Regions from separate parts of the Homo sapiens genome. Here region 1 is linked to region 2. The links come from fine-mapping of genetic effects on gene expression. A gene starts in region 2. The other region holds a variant in brackets. All regions are shown on one strand. Distances are from middle to middle. Region 1 overlaps BSCL2 (BSCL2 lipid droplet biogenesis associated, seipin). Region 2 holds the start of GANAB (glucosidase II alpha subunit).

Region 1 (2,500 bases), 55 kb after region 2:
CTCATGTCTGTAATCCCAGCACTTCAAGAGGCTGAGGTGGGCAGATCACCTGAGATCATGAGTTTAAGACCAGCCTGGCCAACATGATCAAACCCCGTCTCTATTAAAAATACAAAAATCAGCTAGGTATGGTGGCATACGCCTGTAACCCCAGCTACTTGGGAGGCTGAGGCAGGAGAATCGATTGAACCCAGGGGGCAGAGGTTGCAGCGAGCCAAGATCGTGCCATTGCACTGTAGCCTGGGCGACAGGAAAGAAACTCCGTCTCAAATAAATAAATAAATAAATAAAACTTCAGGCTGGGTGTGGTTGCTCACGCATGTAATCCCAGCACTTTTGGAGGCCGAGGTGGGTGGATCACCTGAGGTCAGGAGTTTTAGACCAGCATGACCAACATGGTGAAACCCTGTCTCTGCTAAAAATACAAAAGTTAGCCGGGTGTGGTGGTGGGCACCTGTAATCCCAGGTACTCAGGAGGCTGAGGTGGGAGAATCGCTTGATCCCAGGAGTTGGAGGTTGCAGTGAAGTGAGATCGCGCCACTGCACTCCAGTCTTGGCGACAGAGCAAGACTCTGTCTCAAAAAAAAAAAAAGAACGTATCCTTTATGAGAGCCTCCTCTAGCTTGCCTACTATAGAGGGCCCAGTCCCCATATGCATTTCTCAGGGTTCCCAGGTTTGTTGACATCACACTGGCATCTGGCCAGTCCTCTGGCACAGTACCCTTTGTAATGACACGATGCATATATTTGACAACAGTTTCATAATGTTATATAAATGCTTTCAAAACTCTTGGGTAGATGCCCATCTTATTCCAATGTAATAGCTCATTTGTTCATTTAGGTCTAAAACATTGCTTACTTCACCTAGCAGATATTGCTCACTTTACCTAGCAGATAAATAGATCATACTTCACCTGATACAGATGGTCCTCAGTTTATGATGGGGTTACATTCCGATAAACCCATCTAAGTTGAAACTATCACAAGCTGAAAACGCATTTAGTACACCTAACCTAAAGAACATCATAGCTTACTTAGCCTAGCCTACCTTAAACATGCTCAGAACACTTATGTTAGCCTACCTATAGTTGATTACAATCATCTAACACAAAGCCTATACTTATAATAAAGTAGTGAATATCCCATGTGATTTATTGAATGCTGTACTGAACGTGAAAAACAGGCTGGGCGTGGTGGCTGACGCCTATAATCCCAGCACTTTGGGAGGCGGGCAGATCACAAGGTCAAGAGATCCAGACCATCCTGGCCAACATGGTGAAATCCCATCCCTACTAAAAATACAAAAAAATTAGCTGGGTGTGGTGGCGCGCTCCTGTAGTGCCAGCTACTCGGGAGGCTGAGGCAGGAGAATCGCTTGAACCCAGGAGGTGGAGGTTGCAGTGAGCTGAGATCGCGCCACTGCAATCCAGCCTGGC[G/A]ACAGAGTGAGACTGTCTGGAAAAAAAAAAAAAAAAAGAAAGAGAGTGAAAAACAGAATGGTTGTATAGGTACCTGAAGTACAGTGTCTAAGGAATGTATGTCGCTTTTGCACCACAGTAAGTTGAAAAATTCTTAAGTTGAATTACCGTAAGTCAGGGACTATGTTGAGAAAGAACATTTCTAACACCTGCTGCAGAAAGATCCATCAATACACACAATTAATTTTAATTTCTTTTCCTTCAAAGCCTTCCTCTTAGTCTCCTTTTTTTTTTTAAGACAGAGCTTCATTCTTGTTGCCCAGGCTGGAGTGCAATGGCGTGATCTCGGCTCACCGAAACCTCCTCCTCCCGGATTCAAGTGATTCTCCTGCCTCAGCCTCCCAAGTAGCTGGGATTACAGGCATGCACCACCACGCCCAGCTAATTTTGTATTTTTAGTAGAGACGGGGTTTCTCCGCGTTGGTCAGGCTGGTCTCGAACTCCCAACCTCAGGTGATCTGCCCACCTCAGCCTCCCAAAGTACTGGGATTACAGGCGTGAGCCACCGTGCCCGGCCAGTCTCTTATTACTCAATTCCTTCTCTCTAGGCCTTTCTCAAGTCTTCCTATTTTGAGTCATCAAAGCTCTAATGAAACCTCTCTCTAGTTCCCATACTCACCCGATCACGTCCACCCTTAGTCAGCGAGACATTGGCAACAGGGAAGGAGCAGAGTGAGGTGGTGGAGGAATCACAGTCGGTCCTAAATGAGATTGGAGGAGGATACTCTGCTAAGTTAGTCTTACTAGTCCATCCATACACCTTCTTTGCCCCCTAGGGCTCCCTCCTGCCCTCCTCCCTTCTCTCAGAACAGGCACCCTTCTCTCTGTTACAAAGATGGAGAACAAATGTGGCCAGGAGATTCAAGATACCAGGATTATTTCATTCTCTTCCTATGACTTCAATGTATGTCCTCTCATTACAACAGATGTTCTTAGATGGGAATCTAGAGATACTTAAATAGTTGCATACTTCAGTGTTTCTAAAGACTTAAGGAGCTTGATAAAAATGTAAATTCCAGGGCCAA
Region 2 (2,500 bases):
CTGTTGGAGGGCCCTAAGGAATTCACGGCGGCCTTGACCACCCCAAGAGAGGTGTTCATAGGCCAAAGTCAGGAATAAGCTGCAGGGCAAGTTGCACGCATTTATTGTTTCAGATCACAGGCTCCGAGGGAACTGAGTTTATGATCCACGCTTTCTTCATCGCTTTGGAGAGTACACGCCTACCCCACCCCAGTATATCCGTTAGGTCCTAGTAAACATTTGTGGCACTGGTGATATGTTTCGAATCTTTTTTTTTCCCCAGTAATATAAACCCGAGAGCGTGGACCAAGCCATTCGATTACATGTTGTGTTTGAGCAACACCATCCACGCCGTGAGCTTACTGGACCCTGGGCCGTGCCCAGCGACCGTGGACACTGAACTAAGCCAGAGCTGGTGCTCACGTGAAGACAAGGGCAGAGGAGGATTCGGAGCTCTACAGGGTAGAGCCAGAAGGGTAGTACAGGCTTAACTGCTGGCCCGGTGCTTCCAGCTCAGCCGAGGGGCCGCGGGGCCGCAGGCTGCATTCCCCGAGGCCAGGCCGCATCTTTTCCCCCGCCCCGACGACCCCGCGCACTGCAGGAAGGGGGCGGCGACGTTGACCGCCGCAAGCAGCCAAAGGAGGGCGGCGGCTGAGAGCGGCCAAGACCAAGAAAGACGCACAGCTGTGGCTTTACTAAACCGCCGGGCGGGAGCCCGGAGCCCCACAGGCAAGGCCCCCAGCGTCGCTCGGATCTACCACGGGGAGACCGGAGGCGTCTGAGGCCGCCTCCAGAGGAACAAAGGTTCCTCACGAGGCCGGGGGTGGCAGAGTGTCAAGAGACACACAGGAAGGAGTGGAATGGGACTTGGGGGATCTGGGGGCGTCCCGGGCGCGCCCCCAGATTCCGGGCTCCTCACCGCCTCCTACGCGCCGCCACTGCCGCTACCGCCGCCATCTTGTGCAGAGTTTGCTCCTTGACCCCAAACCTCCCGCCCCATCGCGCGCGCTCAGCCACGTATCCTAGTTCCCGCCCCTTCCGGCCTTATGATTGGTTCGACCTGAGCGCCGCCGGGCAGCTGTCTCATTGGTAGAGTGCGCACTCCAAATTATCGCAGGGGGCGGGGCTTCAGGCCAGGGGCGGGAACGTCCAGAGCCAGGCGCTGTCAGACTTTGCACGCTCTCAGCATGACAGAAGCACTGGACTGGTTTTCTCAAGTTGGCAAATTTTATTTAGAAAAAAAAAAGTGGGAGAGAAAAAAGTGACAGCGCTCTTTAGACCAAGGACTTAGAAGAGAAACCTCCACCCTTCCGGAGCACGTTAGTCCCTTCCCTCTCTCACTGCTCAACCTCCCTGGGCTTCCAGAGCAAGAAAAGGCTACGTCCCCTGTCGAAGGAGAGTGGACGGTGAAGGTGCCTGGAAACGGCCAGAGAAAAGACCTAGGCGGTCGATGTTGCGGTGGAGGACACTGTGCAGCACAGCCAGATGGGGTCCACCCTCACCTCCACCCTCCCTGGAGAAGTCCCGAATGAAGCGACCCCGCTCTGATTGGAAGATGAACTTCTGAGGCAAGGGCCCATGCTCCCGGAGAAAACCCCAGACACTGAGCAGCAGCAGACGCACCTCGAAAGGTGCCAGTTGGCTAAATACTTCATGCATATTACCCAGGGCCGGAGGCAGGAGGCTTCCCTCAGCCATGACAGCCACTAAGGTGCAGGATGCCTCCAGGTGCCAGGGGGAGTGGGTCGTGTCAGGGTGGCGAGAGGCTTCCCAATGGCCCAAGAGGGCGGCCAGCAGCCCCCGAAGCAGCACGGAACAGTAGCACAGGGCTGGGGGTGCAGCTGCTACCAGCTTTAACAGCTCAAAGAGCAGGGGCTGTTCGCGGAAGCGCCGGCCAATGCGGAGATCCCGCTCCACGGTGGCCCGGGCGTGTTCCTCGGGGGGCCAGGCCAGCTCTGCACCAGCTGCATCGGGACACACACTCTCCACCAAGGTCACTGCCACTGCTTTGGCTGCCTCTGGACTCAAGATGGGTGCCCCCCAGCATTCCCCACATTCAGTGCCCCCTGGGGCACTGCAGCAGTGAACCAGGAGGCTGAGGAGGCTCTGGGTGTTATAGATCACTTCCTGCTGATTTCGTGACTGGACAAACTTGGGTGGCTTTAAGCCACGGCCGATGACTCCAGCATGGAAAACTGACCAAATCCCTCCAGGACCTGGCACAGCTGCAGTGTGCCTCCGGTTAGTGTCCAACAGGGAGGCAGAAGCCAAAGAAGCTGAAACAACTGAGAGAGTCTCATTGTCCCCATCTACTTGCCCACCAAACAGTTCTGTGTTGCCTCGATGTAAGGCTCCTTCAACCAGCAGCTGCAGGACAGCCTTGAGCCCAGCTGGGGATGTCTGAGACAGGCGGGTGAGAAGCTGACAGGCTGAGGCCACACCTGGGGGTCCATGCAGCCTCAGAGAGGCAAAGAAGCGGTGCACCCCAGCCCTTACCAGTCCCAGGAGCTGGGAGGGGGAT

The links. PIP is the estimated chance that this variant, and not a neighbour inherited with it, causes the effect. A credible set is the group of variants that fine-mapping cannot tell apart.
Region 1: its variant is the best candidate, but not a certain one, in a credible set for the expression of GANAB in whole blood (INTERVAL, PIP 0.89).

What each region holds. Positions count from the first base shown.
Region 1 is chr11:62,700,374-62,702,873 of GRCh38, forward strand. It overlaps BSCL2 (BSCL2 lipid droplet biogenesis associated, seipin), which reads right to left. Exons shown (of 11, transcript NM_001122955.4): 3 at 2,095-2,176. It overlaps HNRNPUL2-BSCL2 (HNRNPUL2-BSCL2 readthrough (NMD candidate)), which reads right to left. Exons shown (of 24, transcript NR_037946.1): 16 at 2,095-2,176. Among named protein-coding and RNA genes, the nearest start is that of BSCL2, 5.8 kb to the right of the region's middle. The variant G/A (reference allele first, on the strand shown) is at 1,437.
Region 2 is chr11:62,645,664-62,648,163 of GRCh38, forward strand. GANAB (glucosidase II alpha subunit) reads right to left here and starts at 950. Exons shown (of 24, transcript NM_198334.3): 1 at 899-950. The coding sequence starts at 936. It overlaps INTS5 (integrator complex subunit 5), which reads right to left. Exons shown (of 2, transcript NM_030628.2): 2 at 1,185-2,500. The coding sequence ends at 1,357. RefSeq lists an enhancer at 272-431 and a silencer at 1,042-1,121.